Linked DNA regions of Homo sapiens. The protein of the gene in region 2 interacts with the protein of the main gene of each other region in a pairwise test. Each region holds a gene or a part of one and is shown on either strand. Other genes may lie near its edges.

Region 1 (7,322 bases), on a different chromosome or scaffold from region 2:
AGTAGTTACCATGGCGGTGGGGGTGGGAGGCTGGAGGGGAGGAAATAGGAAGATATACATCAAAGGACACAAAGCAGTAGATATATGGATTAACAAGTGAGATATCTAATGTACAAGAGGACTATAGGCAATAAAGTTGCATGGTATTAGGGACTTTTGTAAATAAGATTTTAGCTGCCTCTGGTCACACACACACAAAAGTATGTGAGATGACAGATATATTAATCTGCTTCACCATAGTAATCATTTTACTATATGTATGCCATAACATCATGTTATGAACCTCAAATATACACAATGAAATTTATTTAAAAAGAACCTGAACAAAAAACCCACAAAAACATTGAGTAAAATATATATTAAATATAACTAACCTCATGCCTATTTCTTGATCACATGCTCTGCACATGTGTGAGAAATTAAATGCTTACTGCTGTAAAAAAAAAAGTTCTAATATTTTCTTTTGGTACTTAAATGGATCATCTTTTAGCAGGCCTCATTTTGGTTATTACTGAGCTATACAACTCTCATTTAATATACATAAGCTCCCTTAAACTGTTTCCTACTAGTAAATTTTTAGAGAAATTTATTGTGTAATCCTCATGAAGAGTATGAGTGTCTGCAGTGGAGAATCTACAAAAAATACAAAGAGTCACTAATTGGCCAATTCTTTTGTGCACCCTAAAAAAAGCACTTGACTTTGGTGTTTCTATGGTGAGTAAAAAAGTATGTTTTAGGAATGCAACTTTCAGATTATCTAACTTGTTAAAGGAACAGAAAGGAAGTGTTAACTGATTGTTTTGTTCTTTACATGACCTCTCTTGAGTATCTATTATCTGGTCTGGCTTTTAAAAAGTTTATTATTGAAAAGATGATATAACACCATAAAAATGTTTTAAAGTAAACAAAATCACCTATAATCCCACCACCCAAATATAACCTTTCTACATATTAATTTCTAGCCCCCACACAATCTATACACAGCATACCTTAATAATTTATGGCTAATTCCTTCTCACTTCTCTCTTTACCTCAAACTTCAAAAATGTGACTACTTTTCTGTGTTGTGACCTCACTAATATGGGACTAAGCATTAAGTCAAAGTGTACATACAAACTTTTGAAAACTAGCAAACTTCCTCTACTGTTTATAGGACATTTTCTCCCTGGATTCCAGCCACAAGAGCTGTTGGTTTTGCTGATGCAAGCCACCTTGGGTAAAATCAGTGGCTTATCCAAGACAAAGCAACTGATGCTATTCAATTGATTTATCCTATGTATCTTTGGGTGTTACTGAGCAGAGATTTGTTAGAAGTGAGGAATGAGAAAGGCTGGAATTAAAGTTGTCCTCACACAAAGGAAAAAGTTCAGGATGAACCTTAATCTGCCTCCATTTATAACACCACCTAGTTTTCCCACTTCATACAAACTTCTGCAGCCAACATTGAGCAGACAGAGCCTACCACATTCCCTTTTGTAGCAAGTAAGACAACAGGAATTCTTTCTCCCACAGTCAAGATTTCACTGCAAATTCCATTAGGAAACCAGAATCAGTCTAGAAGGACTATGCTGTAAGTGTATCTAATAAAAATATGTTGGTATTCTCATAAATGAATAATTAAAAAAAAACCCACATTGAGGCTGGATAAAGAAAATGCGGTACATATACACCATGGAACACTATGCAGCCATAAAAAAGAATGAGATCATGTCCTTTGCAGCAACATGACTGGAGCTGGAAGCCATTATTCTAAGCAAATTAAGACAGGAAAAGAAAACCAAATACTGCACGTTCTCATAAGTGGGAACTAAACAACAAGAACAGATGGACACTAGGAGAGGAACAACAGACAGTGCGGTCTACTTGAGGGTGGAGGCTGGGAGGAGGGAGAGAATCAGAAAAAACGCCTATCGGGTACTATGCTTATTACCTGGGTGACAAAATTACCTGTACGCCAAGCCCCCGTGACATGCAGTTTACCTATATAACAAACCTGCGCATGTACTCATGAACCTAAAATAAAAGTTAAAAAAAAAAAAAAAAAACTCACAATGACCCTGTCGGAAAGAGAAGGCATCACAGAGCTCCAAAGATCGTGGGCTTTGGAGTCAGTGAGCTTGGTCAAACGTTAGCTTCAATTACATACTAACTTTGTCGCCTAATTCTGTAATCACTCACCCTCAGTTTCAAGTCACTTACCCTCAACTGCATCCTCTTCAAAATTGGGAAATCAAGCAGTTAGAGAAATTAAGAATTCTGACAATGTATGTAAAGCACGTGCACTGAGCCTGGCATACAGTAGGTCTTAACGAATGATAGCTAACTCCCTCACCACTCCCTTGCCTACTGGGGTGGGCCAGAACCACCTGCTCTCTCATACATTCCTTCAACTCAGTCACCAGCCTCTATCTTACTGATTCCCCAAGTGAAGCAATCTCACACCAGGGGACTATTCCCTTCTACTCCTTCATTCATACAGCAAACATTTATTAAGCCCCGACTATGCAGGCCCCCTAGGGAACACGGAGATGAAGGAGACTGCATTCCTGTCCTCAGAAGGCTGACCCTGCGGTAATGAAAGAGACTGCAATATAGACACAGCGAGAGAAAGTGCTAGGATAGGAGCATGAGCTGAAGGCCCACTGACCTATTCCCCATGACCCCGGATCCCTTGTTCCCGAGCGAAAGTTCGGGGCCGGGAGTTTAGACGTCTCAGGCTCCAACCTGCTTTCCCCGCCCCCTTCCCTGAGGCCAGGTCCCCGGGGTCCAGACCTCACGCCCACCCATTCAGCTAGGGCCTTCCCTCAAGCCCTGCTCCAGGCTGGGGCCAGTCCGCCTCGCGGTCCAGGCCCCGCTCAGGGCTACCTGAACTCAGGAGGCTGCAGTGCGTTCAGCGCCGCCTTATCCGGGCGCTCCATGGTGTAGCCGTGCCGGCACAGGCGCTCGGCGGCGGAGCTGGGCTCGGCGGCCGCGCTCAGTAAGCTCCGCGAGGGAACGGCCGAGGCGGTTCGCACCGGAAGTAGCGGTTCGCGCCGGAAGTGCCCGTTCGCGCCGGAAGTGCCCGTTCGCGCCGGGCGGCGGGCCACAGTACGCAGGCGCGGCGCGGCGCGGCGCGCCGCAGCGACGCAGGGCTGTTGCCGGCGCGGGGGCGGGCGCTCACATGACTTACCGGCGGTGGCTCCGCGGCGTGCGCCCTGCCAGGAGGGGCCTGTGCTCGAGGAGCAGGCCTGGCGAGTAGCCCAGCCACTCCACGTTGAGCCGGGACTTGCCGCGCAACATGGTCCTCCTGGGCGGGCGGCGGCTACGCCGCCCCCTGAACTCGCGTGAACACTGGTCCTCGTCTGCGTCTCGGTCGCTGAGCTGGGGGCCGCAAGGAGACCCGAGCATATGAGCCGCGAAGAGGGACTACCAGCCAGAGGGCTGTGGTGCTAGGCAACTGAGCGTATTCCGCCGACGACAACACAAAAAAGCAGTGCGCATTATTTCGCCACTACTTGAGCAAATAAATGCCTCATTAATTACTGCCCGCAGTGGTAGGAAGTCAAGCCCTTGGCAGCTGGGAGGAGTTAAAACACTCACCCGAGTCCGTAAAACTAGAGAATGTCAGAGTTCAAAGAGCTCTTGCTGAGAATGACTGTTCCAGACTCGATGCCAGTGACCCCCAACTTCCACTTAAAAGTTAAAAACATATTTTGCAGCTGCTCAGAAAGCCGCCAATGAGACAACAGGGACTCAAATAGTAAGAACAGATGGGCCTCCCGGGCCTGCGCAACCCGAGAGAGGTAAAAACGAAAGGGTGGGTAAGTCTGGAGTCAGGCTTGACAAAATTAAGTTGCCACTGGCTGCTAATAAGAGGACAGCCCTTAACATGGTCAGCGCCTGGAAAGGGCCGCTGACCACACAGCTATTTTCTGCACCACATGGATACAAAGACCACATCTGAAATCATGACTAAACCAGCAGCTTAGAGTGGTGGAAAGGGCAATGGACTGGGCAGCAGGAAGTCCAGGTTTTAGTTCAAACTGAATAATCCCCCTCTAGGGCTGACTGTGCTGGCTCACGCCTGTAATCTCAACACTTTGGGAAGCTGAGGCAGGAGGATTGCGTGAGGCCAGTAGTTCCAGAGCAGCTTGGGCAGCATAGCAAGACTCCGTCTCTAAAAAACAAACTGTAAAATATTTAATAAAAATAATAGTAATCTCTATCTGGGCCTCATCTAGACCTTTAGGTGAGTAAGAACCACCTAATGTAAGAACTTGGGGTACAAAGAGAATCTAGCTCTGGGGTAGGCAAACTGAGCCAGCCGACCTAATACATGGAGCCTACCACCTGTTTTTCTACAGCCCTGAGGTAAGAATGGTTTTTCCTTTTTAAATTGTTGAAAACGTCAAAAGAATAACATGACACGTGAAATTTATATGAAATTCAAATTTCAGCGTCTATTGATAAAATTTTATTGGAGCTCAGCCATTCTCATTTGTTTGTATTATCTACAACAGCAATGTTGAGTAGTTGTGACAGAGACGGTATGATCTGCAACGCCCAAAATGATCTGCAATGCCCAAAATTCTTACCATCTGACCCTTTTACAGAAGAGTTTGCTGACCCCTGCTCTAGCTAATCAGCCTGCAGTGAGGTCCTTCAATCCCTAGGGACCCATAAATGTAGTAATGGTGGTTCTGAAGGCAGTTTTTAATATTTTTAAAAACCTAATGAATCTATTTACTGTTAGGCATCCAAAGCTACTTAAAATATCACCGTTCTTTGATTTTTGACACTTACTATATCATGATGAGGTTATCCTAGTTATCCCATAAGAAAAGACTGTTCACAGATTATTATGAAAATAAGCCACAGTATACTTAATAGAATAAATCTTTTAAAACATAGAATGAACACAAGTGGGGGAACGGAATTGTGACTTATTGTTCCCCAATACCTAGAGTAGGGCCTGGTATATAGTAGGAACTAATAAATATTTGTTAAATAAATAAATTGGGTCCACAAAAGGAAAAAGAGCAAAATAGTTCTTGATGGTGAAAAAATTGGGAACCAGCTTGGCGTGGTGGCACATGCCTGTAATCCCAGCTACTCAGGAGGCTGAGGCAGAAAATCGCTTGAACTCAGGAGGCGGAGGTTGCAGTGAGCCAAGATCGTGCCACTGCACTGCACTCCAGCCTGGGTGACAGAGTAAGACTCTGTCCACCCCCCCCCAAAAAAACTGGGAACCACTGTTGTTGTAGTTTGCCGGAGCTGCCATAACAAATGCCACAAACTAAGTGGCTCCAACAACAGAAGTTAATCATCTCCCAGTTCAGGAGGTTAGAAGTCTGAGATGGAGATGTTGGCGAGGCTGGTTCCTTCTGAAGGTTGTGAAGGAAGGACTGTTCCAGGCCCCTCTTCTGTTTTCTGGTGGTTTGCTGACAATCTTTGGCATTTCTTGGCTTGTAGAAGCATCACCCTGATCTCTGCATTTTTCTTCAAACGGCCTTCTCCCTGCGTCTGTGTTTCTGTCCAAATTTTCCCTTTTTATAAGGACACCAGTCATAATGCATTAGGGGCCCACCCTACACCTGTATGAACTTAATTATTTACATCTGCAGCGACGCTGTTTCACTCTGGGGTACTGGGGGCTAGGATTTCAGCATATGAATTTGGGGATGGTGTGGGTGACCGGGCCAGCAATTCAACCCATAACAGTAGTCTAAACACTTCCTTGTACAGATGAGAAAACTGCGGCCCAGAGAGGGGACGGGACTTGTGGGAAGTCACACATTTATCTAGTGGGATGTAGCTTGACTCCTGACTCCCAGGCTGGCACTTTTACACTCCCACATTAACAGCCTAAGTTGCACTTGTGTGATAACTTAAACAGGAACCATTCATAAATGAGATTTGCTGTGGGAAAAACTTCTCATGTAATTTACATAGTAGTGTTTTTAAATATAAACAAAAGCTCTCATATCTCTTATTTATTTATTTATTTATTTATTTATTTATTTATTTATTTATTTCGAGACAGAGTCTCGCTCTTTCGCCCAGGCTGGAATGCAGTGGCGCGATCTCCGCTCACTGCAAGCTCTGCCTCCCGGGTTCACGCCATTCTCCTGCCTCAGCCTCCCGAGTAGCTGGGACTACAGGCGCCTGCCACCACGCCCGGCTAATTTTTTGTATTTTTTTTAATAGAGACGGGGGTTTCACCGTGTTAGCCAGGATGGTCTCGATCTCCTGACCTCGTGATCCGCCCGCCTCGGCCTCCCAAAGTGCTGGGATTACAGGCGTGAGCCACCACGCCCTGCCATATCTCTTTTTTATGCTGACTTATACACTCTACCAACATTTACTGTGAGCTTACTGAGGTAGACACAGAACTTTAAAAATAAACTCAGAATCTGTACTAGAAGGAAAGAATCTAGCCAGCAGTCAGCCCTCTCAACAGAGCCCTGAAACCTCCTACCTGCAGTGCTACAAAAGAATTAGAGGCAAGTGGAGCCCACACAGAGCCGTTGCCATGGGAATGAAATGGTGTGTTAGGGGGTGTGGCCACTACAGAGGAAACCATAATAGTGGTTTCCTACCACTGCTGCCCTAAAGCATGTGTCTTGTGCTTCATTTTACTGAGCATATTCACAGTCCCTACAATTTATACCATCCCCACTTCATAAGTGGAAAAACTGAGGCCAGGGAAAATTTCAGAGTCTGGTGAAGGCTTCCCAATGCCCCTTAAAGTCAGAAACTGATTCTCAAACTGAAAGAGCCCCAGTTTGGCACTTTAATTTTAGTTGAGAAAACTGACAGCTAAAGATGGGAAGTGATTTGCCCCAAATTCCCTAGGTCAGTGATAGAATTAGAGAATGTATAGTTCCTAATTCTGTCTCATGTTTTCTCCACCATATTGTTGTAAACTTCTGTACTACTTGTAAGACACGTTTTCTCCACCATATTGTTATAAACTTCTGTACTATTAACCCAGTGACGTGAAAAGTATACACCCAAAGACACGTTTTGCAACCCCAAATTGCTTTACTTACCCGAAAAAACTTCGTTTCTTGAAGTTTCCTTTTGGGTGGCTGGCTGTGGGATTGGATGGAACAACCATATTGAAACACCAACTGATACTTGCCAAGGCCTATACCTGAACAGCACGGTGTTTTTAAAACTAAGACATAAGGAAAATAGAAATAAGCTCCACTGTACAATCAACAAAACTCATATTAAAAAAGAGAGAGAGAAACTCTGGCTTCTTTGTAATGTAGGCTGTGATGTCTTAAAAAAAAAAATTGGTAAAATATGCCCCCTGGTGAAAAAGCATAGTTCCATTT
Region 2 (7,911 bases):
GCTAATTTTGTTGTATTTTTAGTAGAGATGGGGTTTCACCCTGTTAGCCGGGATGGTCTCCGTCTCCTGACCTCGTGATCTGCCCACCTCGGCCTCCCAAAGTGCTGGGATTACAGGCGTGAGCCACCACACCTGGCCCCAACAAGCAGATTTCTAAGGCACTAAAATGTGCAGGTCATTTTCAGAACTCTGATGGAAGACCCTCATCCCCTCAAAGGCACTGCAGGTAGGGAGCAAAAGGAGCCCACTTCCCTCACACCCAGTCCCTGAGAGTCAAGAGACCCAAGTGCCAAGCTCTATTACAGGACTCCTGGCAAGTCCTTCTAACTAGACCTCAATGTCTACGTCTGTGTAATGGGACCCAGATGCGCAGGGCTGGATTGCTGAGGCCACAGGGGATGCCCCCACCCATCCCAACCCCAATCAGGAACACAAGCCTGCCCTAGAGGAAGCTACCAAGACCCTTGCGGCCCACAGCAGCAACATCCTCCTCTTACTCCAATGCCTTCCATTCCCCCTATTGCCCCTATTGCTAGTCTCTTTCTTTTTTCTTTTCTTTTTTTTTTTTTGTGTGTGTGTTTGTCTGTTTGAGACAAAGTCTCATTCTGTCACCCAGGCTGGAGTGCAGTGGTGCGATCAAAGTCACTGTAGCCTCAAACTCCCAGGCACAAGGGGTCCTCCTACCTCAGCCTCCCAAGTAGCTGAGACCACAGGCGCATACCACCATGCCTGGCTATTTTTTTTTTCCTTTTTTTTGTAGAGACAGGGTCTCAATATGTTGCCCAGGCTGGTCTTGAACTTCTGGCCACAAGCAATCCTCCTGTCCATCAGGGGCCAGCCTCAGGATCCACCTCACCAGGGATGCTGAGGGATCCCTCACAGGGATCTTGCCAGTCATCATCCTCCACCCAGCAAGATCCCTCTTCTGTTCCAAAACCTCTTAAGGCCACCAACAGAACCTAGACCCTGTAGCTCGCAGAAGTTACACAAGGCCCTTGGCTTCTGTCCACACCAGAAACAAGTGCTTCAACTCCAGCACCACCAACCTGTTGGCTACTCCCTGCAAATTAATTCAACTTTCTCATCACCACATCTTGGCTCACACTGTTCCCTGCCCTTGGAACACCCTTTCCCTGCGTCTGCCTCAGATTTCAGTGAAGTCTCTGCTCAAAAACCACCTCCTCCAACAAGCCTTCCTGGTCGTGAAATTGCTCTCCTTCTCCTCTGCCCTTTCGCACCACTTCTCACACCCACCTGGCTCTCCCCTGGGCAGCCAGGCAGCTGCTCATGGCTGTGCCCCTCACAACCAGCCCAGAGCAGAGCATTCTAGCGGTGGCGGGGTCAGTGGCTCTCCCCATCTGCAGAATTAAATGATTCCAGGAACTAGACCTCTTCCCTCAGAAGACAGAATCTTCTCCCCTTCTCCCCCACCCCCCAAAAGAGAAACAAACAAAAAACTCTGGGAGAACTGTTAAAAATGAATTTCTGGCTGTACTTCCTGAGATTCAAATTCCGATTGCACATTTTTTTCCGGGGGTGGAGTCCAATAATCTAAATTTTAAACAAACCCGCCAGGAGATTCAGAGGTTGGGGAGGGGGCCCACAGAGATCTGAGAAATCCTGAAATGAGATAGCACTGACCCAGGTAGAGGTGGGCCCGCACCTGGAGAGGTCAGGGAAGGGAGACTGGACCTCAGCCCAGGGTCTGGCACCAAAGCAACCACCCTGCCCTCTAGCTTGGGCCTCGCAGCAGCGCTAGCACCCAGCAATAGGAGACAATGGGAAATGTCCACTCGCTGGATTGCTAAGAAATACAGGTCCTGGCCCAACTCCAATTCCACCTGAGTCCTCTGAAAATGTATCAGGCCCTCACCCACCCAGGGCACCCACCCAGCTTCCAGACCCTCACGAAAGGGTGGCAGAGGAAGAAGCTAACATCCGGGCCTGTGGCTGGTGTGGGAGTGGAGGATGTTCCCATGGGTCCGCCTCAGTTGGGGTCTGTACAGGGGTCTGGGAGAGAGTAGGAGTCTTGCCCCTGGCTACCCACAAACCCCTCCCTCCAGCGATATCTCGGTCCCGTGGGGCTGGCTAAACCGGCTGAAACCTGGCGGGTCACCCAGAGAAAGCTAGAAGAGCCCGGCTCCCGCGCGGGCGCCCACAGGGTAGTGCCTGAGTGTGCGTGTTGGGGAGTCGGATGTGCCCTCTAGATTAGATGAGGAATGTTCATGGGTGCGGCCACCCGGAGCCGCTGGGAGCGGGACAGAAGGTGGTCAGAGAGTGGACTTTGCCTCAGACTGGGTTCCCTAGAGGGCTGGGGGCACTGTCCGGGCAGAAAGAGGGGTGAAAAAGAGAGAGGAGGGAAGGGAGGGCTGGGAAGGGTTGGCGGGTTGTGCGCAGTGACTGTGGCTCCGGTGGGGGCTTCTGTGGCCGCTGGTAACCACCTTGGAGGGGGCACGATGGGGCACGGGCAGTGGGCACTCTGTACACGGTGCAGGGTGCTCACGCTCGCAGCGACGGCCACGGGGTAGTGTCGTGGTGAGAGGGATGCAGGGCGATCTTGGGGGCGTCCGTGCGGGAAGCGCCCTAGGGGTACGCGCAGCGCGTCGGTGACAGTGTGAGCCCGGGTGGGGAGCGCAAGGTTCGCGAAAAATGAACGCAGCGCCGGAGTCCCTCACCCATCCTGGCCGGACCGGGAGCCCCCGGCCAACCCCGTGGGCCCGCGCGTGCTCTCACCAGCTGCAGCAGCATGAGCGCCCCGAGGCGGGAGCGCACGAAGCCCAGGTCCGGGCGCAGCGCCGACACCGAGGCTTCGGCGCCCTGCGCAGGACTGCTGGTCCGCGTGCTAACTTTCGACGGGAACTCGGCCATGGCGGCTCCGCTTGCCTCCCGAGGTCGCTACGGCCGCCGTCGCCGCCCCTCCAGCGGTGGGTGCCGGCTCCCGCGCCGCTTTTCCCCCAGGCTCCGGATCCCTGTGTGGCTCCAGGCGCTGCAGGAGGCGTCGGGGCTGGGAGCCTGGGGCGCCAGGTGCGGCCGAGATCCCGGCTCCGCCCCCGCCGCCGGGGCCGCCCCCTTAACCCTTTGCTCGCCGCCGCCGCCCCAGCCGCGACCGGTTCGTGGGCAGCCGCGTCCACTCCCCGGACCAGTAAACAACCCCGGGTCCGTGAATCGGCTCCGCCAGCACCAGCCTAGACCGCTTCGCCGGCCTCCCCCGGGGCAAGCCGCCCGCTGGGAATTTCCCGGCTCTCGCCCAGGCCGTGGTAGCTTCCGCGCCTAGGGATAAACTTGTGGTAGCTCGCGGGGGACACCGCTCTCCCAGGCGCTTTCTACGCGCTGTGCACCCTCGGCCTAGGCCCCGGCGCAGCGACTCTTGAAGAGTCCCGGGAGAAGGCTGGATGCGGTGGCTCCTGCCTCTGATCGCAGCACTTTGGGAGGCTAAGGTGAAAGGATAATTTCAGGCCAAGAGTTCGAGACCAGCCTGGGTAACACAGTGAGACGCCCCCCCTCCCCCCGTCTGTATTTTATAGAAAAGAAAGTAAAGAAGAATCCTGGGAGACCCAGCGCGGGGAAGGGGAGGGTCTGGGTAAGCGGTGGGTAAGCGGTAGAAGGGGGAGGTCCTTTTCTGCCTATTAATGCTGTTTTCACTTCTGAACATATTTTATATAACTTAGATGATCGCGGAGCCTCAGTTTCCTCGTCTGTCATATAGATACGAAGGAAACCTGCCTCACAGAGCGTTGTAGGGAATAAATGAAATATTCCCCAGAAAGCTCCTGACAGCGTGAGGGAGGAGGGGTCACTCAGAAGATGGGAGGTCATATACAGTTTCATTGCCACACATGCACCCTAAAATACTTACACACACACACACACCTCTTGAGCCTAGAGGTTTGCACAGATAGGTCATCATGCATTCATCAACCAATGTTTGCTGAACACCTACTACATGCCAGGCCCTGTGGATACAGCAGGAAACGAAGTAGACAAGGCCTTCTTGGCTCCCACATTTTTTTTTTCCCAAATACCCACTTAAAAAGAGAGCCACTTAAAAAATTGTTTTTAACTGACATGTAATATTAGGTTGGTGCAAAAGTTATACGGTTTTTGCATATAAAAGTATAGCAAAAACCGCAATTACTTTTTCGGCAACCTATAATTGTACCTAAATATGGGGTACCATGTGATGTTTTGGTACCTGTGTACGTTGTGTAAAAAAATCAAATCAAGGTACTTAGCATATCCATCACCTCATACATTTATGGCTTCTTTGGGGTGAGAACATTCAAAATCCCCACTTCTAGCTACCATATTTTGAAATATACAATATTAGGGCCAGGCGCTGTGGCTCACGCCTATAATCCCAGCACTTTGGGAGGCCAAGGCAGGCAGATCACCAGAGGTCATGAGTTTGAGACCAGCCTGGTCAACATGGCAAAACCCTGTCTCTACAAAAATACAAAAAAATTAGCCAGGCATGATGGTGGGTGCCTGTAGTCCCAGCTACACAGGAGGCTGAGACAGGAGAATCACTCGAACCCAGGGAGGCAGAGGTTGCAGTGAGCTGAAATCATGCCACTGCACTCCAGCCTGGGTGACAGAGCCAGACTCCATCTAAAAACAAAAACAAAAAAAGAAAAGAAATGTACAATATTGGTATTTTTTTCTTTTTACTTTTATTTATTTTGAGGCGAGGTCCCACTCTGTCACCCAGGCTGGAGGGCAGTGGCATGATCATAGCCTACTGCAGCCTCCAACCCCTAGGCTCAAGTGATCTTCTCACCTCAGCCTCCCTAGTAGCTAGGACTACAGGTGCACGCCACCATGCCCAACTAATTTTTTTTTTTTTTTGAGATGGAGTCTTGCTGGAATTACAGGCTCGAGCCACCATGCCCAGCTAATTTTTTGTATCTGTAATAGAGACTGGGTTTCACCATGTTGGCCAGGCTGGTCTTGTGATCCGCCCACCTTGGCCTCCCAAAGGGCTGGGATTACAGGCATCAGCCACTGGGCCCAGCCCTGACTAATTTTTTTAAATTTTTTTGTAGAGATGGGGTCTCTCCATGTTGCCCAGACTGGTTTCGCACTCCTGGCCTCAAGCGATCCACCCGCCTTGGCCTTTCAAAGTGCTGGAATTACAGGTGTGAGCCACCATGCCCAGCCCTAACTGTAACTTTGTACCTGTTAACCAACCTCTTTGTATCCTCCCACTACACCCCAGCCTCCTGTAACCACTATTCTACTCTACTATGAGATCAATTTATTTATTTATTTATTTGAGATGGCGTTTTGCTCTTGTTGCCCAGTCTGGAGTGCAATGGCGCGACCTCGGCTCACTGCAACCTCCGCCTCCCAGGTTCAAGCAATTCTCTTGCCTGAGTAGCTCGGATTACAGGCGCCCGCCAGCACGCTAAGCTAATTTTTTGTAATTTTAGTAGAGACAAGGTTTCACCATGTTGGCCAGGCTGGTATCAAACTCCTGAAATCAGGTGATCCACCTGTCTTGGCCTCCCAAAGTGCTGGGATTACAGGCGTGAGCCACTGCACCTGGCCGAGATCAACTTCTTTATTTCATTCCACATATGAGAGAGACCACGTGGTGTTTGTCTTTCTATGCCTGGCTTATTTCACTCACATGATGTCCTCCAGGTTCATCTGTGTTGCCACAAATGATAGGATTTCAGTCGTTGGATCCCACTGTCTGGTGGGGATGAGAAGTAATAAACCCGGGAGGAATAATACTTTCAGATAGTGACAAACGCTGTGACTAAAGTAAAATGGGGGAATGTGACACAGAGTCACCCACAGGTGATTTCTGGGTTAAGGTGGTCAAGGAAGACCTGTGGGAAGAGGTGACATTTATGCAGAGACCCAAATCATGAGTAGGGGCTAGCCTTGGGAATTCTGGGGGAAGAATTTAATAAGTGCAGGAGCCCTGAGGCTGGACCAGTTTTGAGAACAGAAAAAGGTCCTTGGTAGGGCTAGAGCCAAGTGAGTAAGGGTGAGATTGGCAACACGGGCCAGGGCCGGATCACACAGGCTATTTAGAGGACTGTATTAGTGCCCTGTGGCTGCTCTAACTTGGTGACTTAAAACAACAGAAATTTGGCCAGGCACGGTGGCTCACGGCTGTAATCCCAGCACTTTGGCAGGTGGATCACCTGAGGTCAGGAGTTCCAGATCAGCCTGGCCAACATGGCGAAACCCTGTTTCTACTAAAAATACAAAAAAATAGCTGGGCGTGGTAGTACACGCCTGTAATCCCAGCTACTCAGGAGGCTGAGGCAGGAGAATCACTTGAACCCGGGAGGCGGAGGTTGCAGTTAGCTGAGATTGAGCCATTGCACTCTAGCTTGGGCAACAAGAGTGAAACACGGTCTCAAAAAAAAAAAAAGAAAAGAAAACCCAGAAATTTACTCTCCTGTAGTCCTGGAGGCCAGAAGTCTGAAATCAGTTTCACTGAGCCAAAATCTTCCAAAATTTGGGAAGAGCCAAAATCAGGTGTCCTGAGGGTCATGCTCCCTTTGCAGAGTCTAGAGGAGAATCCCATCCTTGTTCTTCCAACCCTGGTGGGGCCTGCTGGCATTCCTCAACTTATGACTGCATCAACCCTGTCTCTGCCTCCTACGTCACATGGCCTCCTCCTTTTCTGTATGTATAACATCTCTCTCTGCCTCTCTTATAAGGACACTTGTGATTGTGTTAGGGCCACCCAGATACTCCAGAATAGTTTTCCTCAAATAAAGAATCTTAATTTGAGGCTGGGCGCAGTGGCTCATGCCTGTAAACCTAGCACTTTGGGAGGCCAAGGCAGGAGGATGGGTTTGGCTCAGGAGTTTGAGACCAGCCTGGGCAACACAGCAAATACCCCTGTCTCTAAAAAAAAAAAAAAAATTGGCCGGGCGTGGCGGTGCACACCTGTGGTTCCAGCTACTTAGGAGGCTGAGGTGGGAGGATTGCTTAAGCCCCAGGAGGTTGAGGTTACAGTGAACCATGTTTTTGCCTCTGCACTCCAGCCTGGGTGACAGAGCAAGACCCTGTTTCAAAAGGAAAAAAAAAGAAAAAGAATCTTAATTTAGTCACTTAATCTGTAAAGACCTTTTTACTTTATAAGGTAAAATGGACAGGTTCCAAGAATTAGGATCTGTTCTGTTTGTTTGTTTGAGACAGGGTCTCACTCTGTTGCCCAGGCTGGAGTGCAGTGGTGCCATCCTGGCTCACTACAACCTCCGCCTCCAGGTTTCAAGCAATCCTCCTGCCTCAGCCTCCTGAGTAGCTGGGACCACAGGTCCTTGAGCCACCATGACTCACCAATTTTTTGTAAAGACTGGGTTTCACCATGATGCCCAGGCTGGTCTCGAACTTGAGCTCAAGCAATCCTCCTGCCTTGACCTCCCAAAGTGCATGAGCCACTGATACATCTTTTAGTGGCAATTATACAGCCTACCACAATGATGGAGAAGGGCTAACATTTTATTTTAAGGCTTGGAGTGTTTTTTTTTTTTGAGACGGAGTCTCGCTTTGTCGCCCAGGCTGGAGTGCAGTGGCGTGATCTCAGCTCACTGCAAGCTCTGCCTCCCGGGTTCACGCCATTCTCCTGCCTCAGCCTCAAAGAGTAGCTGGGACTACCGGCACCCGCCACCACGCCTGGGTAATTTTTTGTATTTTTAGTAGAGATAGAGTTTCACCGTGTTAGCCAGGATGGTCTCGATCTCCTGACCGCGTGATCTGCCTGCTTTGGCCTCCCAAAGTGCTGGGATTACAGACGTGAGCCACTGCGCCCGGCCAAGGCCTGGAGTGTTTTAAGCAGGCGAGAGACAAGCTCTGATGAACACTTTAAAAATATCACTGGTTGATGCTGACTTAACCCTTTACTCAACGGGATGTTCAACCCCCTCCCCTCAATGCACCTGAGCC
Region 3 (7,024 bases), on a different chromosome or scaffold from region 2:
GTAAAACTGAAATAATACCTCTCAAGAAGACAGATACTTGGGTTCTAGAGGATCCACTCACAATCAACAAGTCTCGATTTCCATAGTCCTTAGATCCCTCAAATATAAATTAGGAAAATTATTTTACCTGCCTGAAGTTGAGACCAAACTAAATAATCTCTTGAATAGTATGATTCTATAAGTGACTGAAAGTGCAATCTTGCTTCTGAAATTTGAGCTACTGTCAAAAGCGCTCAGCAACATTGTGAACTGAGCATATGGCCTTAACTCCAGGGTGCATGGGTAGGCTGGGGTAAAGAAAAGACAGAAAAATTAAAAGCCCAGGCCCGTGCCACTTATGGGAGTGGGGCCTGAGTTTATGCAACCCATGCAGAATGAAAATTCCAAGGTGAAAAAATAGTATGAACTCAAATATCTATAAGAATTAATGAACACTAAAGATAATACTTCAAGTATTAGGAAAAAGGGATTATTCCCCTGTTGGGGAAACATGTTGGGACAACTAGATAACCTTCTGTTAAAAAACACAACCCCTTGGGAGGCCAAGGCGGGTAGATCACGAGGTCAGGAGTTTGAGACCAACCTGGCCAAGATGGTGAAACCCTGTCTCTTATACTAAAAATATAAAAATTAGCCGGGCACGGTGGTGGGCGCCTGTAATCCCGGTTACTCAAGAGGCTGAGGCAGGAGAATCGCTTGAACCCGGGATACGCAGGTTGCAGTGAGCCGAGATGGCGCCACTGCACTCTAGCCTGGGTGACAGAGCAAGATTCCTTCTCAAAAACAAACAAACACCCACCACCCCACCAAATTTGGACTCTAATTTCACATCTTAAAGCAAAATCAATTTCAAATGGAACTAAAAAACTGAGACCACAGAAGTACTAAAAAAACTACAGATTTTTAAAAACAATTTTAAGTGCATAAAGTCTTTAAATATAATACATAACTTAGCAGCTATAAAAGAAAAGATAAATTTGAATACATAAAACCAAAACTTTGTGTGGTTCAAAAAAACACCATAAATAAGTAAAAGGACAAACTAGAAAAAATATTTGCGGCAAAGGCTGATTTACTTTATAAAGAACACCTAAAATCTGTACGATCAATATGATGATTGAAAAACTGCAGCAGGGCTGGGCGCAGTGGCTCATGCCTGTAATCTCAGCACTTTGGGAGGCTGAGGTGGGCGGATTGCCCGAGGTCAGGAGTTCGAGACCAGACTGACCAACATGGAGAAACCCCGTCTCTACTAAAAATACAAAATTAGCTGGGTGTCGTGGCGCATGCCTGCAATCCCAGCTACTCGGGAGGCTGAGGCAGGAGAATCGCTTGAACCCAGCAGGCAGAGGTTGCAGTGAGCCGAGATTGCATCATTGCACTCCAGCCTGGGCAACAAGAGTGAAACTCTGTCTCAAAAAAAAAAAAAGAGAAAAACTGTGGCAAAGGATATATGAATAAACAATTTGTAGAAAAGGCATCATAAATGACTCAACTTTTTAAAAAGAAGTCCAACCTCATTAAGTAAATGAGAAATGTAAATTTAAACAAATATTGAGATACCATTTTAACCTCTCAAGAGTGACAAAGACCAAGAAGCTTAATACCACGTTTTTGGCAAGAAGTGAGAAACAGGCATTTTCATCAAGTGTAAATTGGTCCAACCTCTCTGAAGGGCAGTTTAGAAACAAGAATCCAAATTAAAAATATCCATACCCCAAGCCTCGGTAATTTTATTTCCAGGAATTTACTTTATAATCATAATTTTACACACATGTGTAAAATGACATGTACATATTTATTGCAGCATCATGCAATAACAGGAGACTGAAAACAAATGTTAACAGTGGACTGTTAAATTATGACTTATTCATAAAATAGAATATTATGCATGTATTCAAAAGAATAAGATGGCTCTCTATACTGATGTCAAAGGCTCTTGTGATATTAAAATATTGTGAAGGGTATGCATAGTATACTATAATTAGTGTGGGGGGAAAGGAAGATATCCACATGCTTGTACTTGCACCCAAAATAGCTCTAGAACAATACGTAGACTGGTGCTTTGCTGCTATGGAAGGGAACATGGTGGCTGGGACTAGTTGTGGGAAGTAGACTTATTTTTCACTGTATATCCTTTTGAATTTTCTATTTTGAGCATGTATTACTTAATTTAAAAAATCATTGTTTTAACTTACGTGAGGCCCTATTTTGCAACATACCCAAAGCACTTTACCTCTTTCACAACTTAGGGCTCATGGAATTTTACAGGAAATACTCCAAAATTAAAAAAAGTAACTACTGAAGATAATAAGTTCACAATAAAAAATATAAACTACATGAAGAAACAAACCATCATGGAGGAGTGGGCACATATAACAGATACAGAAGCAGATTAAAGAACTAAAGTAAATTTGCTTAAAATTATTAAGAAATGGTACAAAAGGAAAGATTAAGAGACATTAAGAATAGAATGAAAACCTAATGTATATCTATTAACAGTTCCAGAGGAAGGAACAGAGATAATGGAAGAGGCAATAAGTAACAGCAAATTTTCTGGGAAAAAAAAAAAAAAAAAAAAAAGGACAATATATCCACAGACTTGAGTAGAGTTTGGTACATGGTAAATAAAATCAAATCCATACCTGGACAAATCCTAGTAAAATAGCAAAACCCCAAAGACAAAAAGATCTCAACTACAACCAAAAGGAAGAAAAAGATTAATAAAAGTAAAGAGAAACTACAAGCCGACTCCTCACCAACAAGTGGAAGACAGTGGCATAACGCTACTCAAGAGTTGAGGTATAATAAGGTCAATTTACATTTTTTTTTGAGACAGGGTCTTGCTCTGTCACCCAGGTTGAGTGCAGTGGTGTTATCAAGGCTCATTGATCTTCTGGGCTCAAGCGATCTTAATACCTCAGACTCTTGAGTAGCTGGGGCCACAGGTGCATGTCACTATGCCTAGCTAATTTTTTATATTTTTGTAAGAGACAGAGTCTCGCCATATTGCCCAGGCTAGTCTTGAACTGCTGGGCTCAAGCAGTCCTCCCACCTTGGTCTCCCAAAAATGGTAGGATTATAGGCATGAGCCACTGCGCCTGGCCCAATCTACAATTTTATATTCTAAACCCAAACTATTATTCCTGAGTGAGGAAAAATAAAAAATTTTTTCCTGCCAGTGAAAAACTATAGGACACACCTCACTAAAATAAAAAGTGAACCCCAAAGAAATGAGATGCAAGAAACAACAGTGAATTAAAAAAATGATAACCATGTTAGTAAATTTAAACAAGGACTATATTAAAAAGATAATAATTTCATCAATTTTGGGGTGGAGTTTGAAAAAACAAAGTGAAGCTAAAGTCTAATAGTGATACTGTGGAAAACAGGATGGGGGAGGAATCAGAGTTAAAGCTTTCTAACCAGGGCCTCAACATATGACTATGTACAACGCAGGGGATACTATCCATATTTGTAGTCATGGCAGTTTTGCTTATTTATTAAGAAATAATCTGTCAAATGTCAGTAAAGTATCTTAAAGAGGCAGCTTTTTCAAATTGACACTAAAATGATGTTTGGCTAAAATTCTTATATTGTTCAGAAGCATAGGATAGTCATCTATAGCAAAAACTTAAGGAAATCACTAAAAGGATAGAAATAGAATACATCCAAATCAGTAGAGGAGAGAAAATGGAAGAAATAAAAAAATCAATCAGAGAAGGAAAAATAGTGGGAAAAGAGGCAAAGAAAAGTAAGGTGAAGAGAAATCACAAAATAAGATGATAGAAATAAACCTAAATATACCCGTAATCACAAAACATATACACTAATTAAGCTATTAAAGGACATAGTGCTAATATTAAATGAAAAAATCCAGCTATATGTCATTAATGTGAGAAAAATAAAACAACACAGATTGACTAAAAGGGATGGAAAATGAAATATTGTGTTAATACTAATCAGATAAAGGCTGAAGTAAAATCTGAAAATCAACAGTGTTAAAGAGGTTTCTAGTATGATCAGTTCTAGATCTACTGCTAGATGGCTTTGCTCGGTATAGAAAGCATAGTAACAATCTCACTTCAGAACATTCTCATACCCAATCTTTGTATGGCTGGCTCTGTTAGGTTTTTGCTTAAATGTCGAGCCCTTTTTCTCGAGAATCTAACATAAAAAAGGTAACCTTGCTTAGCCACTTAATCTAAATAAAGTCCTTTGTTACCCTCTATTCCCATTCTATTAATTTCTTTTATAGCATATTACAGATTATAATTACATACTGAAATCCTTGTTTACTGCCTCTCTTCCTTAATAGACTATTAACTCCATGAGGATAGGAACACATCTGTTTTGAAGACTCAGTTAACTCCATTTCTCATCTCTTAAGCTTTTACTGTAATGAAATCCAGGGAAGTCTTCCTCAGTATTTAAAAATGGAGCTGAAATCCTATTATTAAAGATCCTGAGACTGGATATAGGCTCCAAAAGAATACAGGAGTTATACAGTCATGTCTGTCTTGGGTGCACAGGGAAAGGAGTGGTCTATGTCAGAGTGTTGAAAAAACAATTAAAAGAACTTGAATGGCTAATTCCAGATGTTATTAAATCTACTCCTTTCTTCCACCCTGAATAACAGCTTCTGGTTTCAAGCTATCCTTTTATAATATGCTTTAGGATTTAACACAAATACGATTCCCTCAAAGATTAAAAACAACGGGATGATGTTGAATTCAGAGCCAACTAAGTAGTTATAATAGAAATAACTAGTAGAAATTTGAGCAGAATATAAAAAATCATCAGAAAACCTAGCTAATCCTTTTATCTTACTGGTAGGTAATAGATGCATATGGGCATTAGCCCAAACAACAAAGCCAGTTGGCTTCAAAGCAAGAAGCTGGGATGAGAGGTGGGCAGTGGCAACTTTAGGACATCCATGAAGAAATAGGTAAGATTGGGTCCAGTTTTTATGATGCAACTCTGCAAACACAGAGTTTCCAATTCTGCAAACTAAAGTGTTAAATAAAAGTGAACAAATTGAAGATAAAGTTTAAAATGGAGGAAAAACACTTCAAGGTACATGTGTTCTTTTCCCCAACCTCCTAAATATTAGGCATCTCATGGGGTTCTTCTTACGTGACTTTTTTCTTTCAGTGGAATTTAAAAGGTAAGTTGGAAAAAATATAGCTTTGGTATATGTCAAAGAATACTCCACCTGGAATAAGGGAGCAGCAGTATTGCAAGGTTCAACAACGCAAAATAAACTATCAAAAAGTCAAGTGTATAATTTTTTGCCATTCCAAAAAAATAAAAGCACTGTTTTGGTAAAGTTCCATTGCAGTAATATTAAATAAAATTGTTAAAAATTATACTAGCTGTTTGAGTCTTCAAAACTTATGATTCTGTAAACATGTGAAACTGAATAGACTATGTTGTAATACAATGGGAAGGATTGAAGCTATGAAAATCTGGATTTAATTTTTAGTGTTGCCACCTACTAGATATGTGGCTTTGGGCAATCTCATAGGGCTGTTTGAAAATTAGCGATACTAAGCTCAATAAATGGAGTTTCCTCCTTCTCCTCCTCTGACCTTTAGAATCAGTGTTGTTTTCAACAACTCTCTGGGAAGACAGAAATACTCTAAGAGGTGCCTTGTTAGTGCAGTAGGTGGCACGCCAGTCTCACAATATGAAAATATACAAAGTGCACTGTCCAAAATGGTAGCCATGGTGGGCTCAGCACTTTATATGTGGCTAGTGTTACTAAGGAACTCAATTTTTAATTATATCTAATTTTAATTAATTTACTTTTAATTAGCCACCTGGGGCCACCATTTTGGGCAGTATAACATAAAGCCATAAAAGCATTTTTTTTTTTTTTTTGAGACAGAGTCTCGTTCTGTCATCCAGGCTGGAGTGCAATGGCGAGATCTCAGCTCACTGCAACCTCCACCTCCTAGGTTCAAGTGATTCTCTTGCCTCAGCCTCCCCAGTAGCTGGGATTACAGGCACCCACCATCAAGCTCAGCTAATTTTTTTTTGTATTTTTGTAGAAACAGGGTTTGGCCATGTTGGCCAGGCTGGTCCCGAACTCCTGACCTCAGGTGATCTGCCCGCCTTGGTCTCTCAAAGTGCTGGGATTAAGGCATGAGCCACCGTGCCTGGCCTTTATTTTTTTATTTTTATTTTTTTTTTTTTAGTAGAGATGGGGTTTCACCATGTTGGACAGTCTGGTCTCAAACTCCTGACCTCAAGTGATCCGCTTGCCTCAGCCTCCCAAAGTGCTGGGATTACACGCGTGAGCCACCGTGCCTGGCCGAAAGGCATGTTTTTTTTGAGGCTTTAAATCCTTGGATTTATGGGAACCAGGGAAGAGTATAAAGAAAAACAACAGTAAGATTCTCTACAAGTTTATCACAGGATGCAGTTTACTAGAAATAGTATAGATAAGCTGTGTGGTAATATCCATCTGGATTTATTAGACATACATGTAATCCAAGCCAATTTACCTAAAATACCTAGACCTCAGACTCCCCACCTGTAGAGCAGGAATACTTACCAACTTCACTGAGGAATTATGGAGATAAAAAAATTAATGGATCTGATATTGTGGGTGCTTAACGAATCTGGTTTTCTTTCTCCTCCTGTATTCAGTTTTTTACATGACCAAACTTTCCTCACCTGCTGGCCAAGTGCCTGATCTGTTACTAAATTTAATATTGGCAAATACAGTTAATGCCAACTGTTTGCCAAAATGTGTATACTCCACCAAATTACACTGTCAATATTTAATTAAGAGCCTGAACTTTAAAAATGTATGACTAAAAATAAACACATGTTTAGCATTATGGAAAAATCTCACAAAATTTAATCCTAAAACCATTATTGTGAAATTAGGGTAGATATTGGCTAGGCATAGAAACTAACAATTACTGCTTCTGAATTATTCTGCTACAAAACTGCTTAATTTATGAGGATGAAAATAAAAATTAAAAGCAAAACTGAACTTGTATCTGTTTTATAG

Evidence for each region.
Region 1: the proteins of PLLP (region 2) and VMA21 interact in binary tests that used the Homo sapiens proteins (3 or more experiments, as listed by UniProt).
Region 3: the proteins of PLLP (region 2) and PGRMC2 interact in binary tests that used the Homo sapiens proteins (3 or more experiments, as listed by UniProt).

Annotation. Positions count from the first base shown.
Region 1 is NC_000023.11:151,392,905-151,400,226, reverse strand, and holds the start of VMA21 (vacuolar ATPase assembly integral membrane protein VMA21), read right to left. Parts: upstream 3,022-7,322; 5' UTR 2,919-3,021; coding exon 2,866-2,918; intron 1-2,865. UniProt on the Homo sapiens protein: Required for the assembly of the V0 complex of the vacuolar ATPase (V-ATPase) in the endoplasmic reticulum.
Region 2 is NC_000016.10:57,281,673-57,289,583, forward strand, and holds the start of PLLP (plasmolipin), read right to left. Parts: upstream 3,001-7,911; 5' UTR 2,869-3,000; coding exon 2,734-2,868; intron 1-2,733. UniProt on the Homo sapiens protein: Main component of the myelin sheath that plays an important role in myelin membrane biogenesis and myelination. Plays an essential function in apical endocytosis. Regulates epithelial development through the regulation of apical endocytosis.
Region 3 is NC_000004.12:128,277,793-128,284,816, forward strand, and holds part of PGRMC2 (membrane-associated progesterone receptor component 2), read right to left. Parts: intron 1-7,024. UniProt on the Homo sapiens protein: Required for the maintenance of uterine histoarchitecture and normal female reproductive lifespan. May serve as a universal non-classical progesterone receptor in the uterus.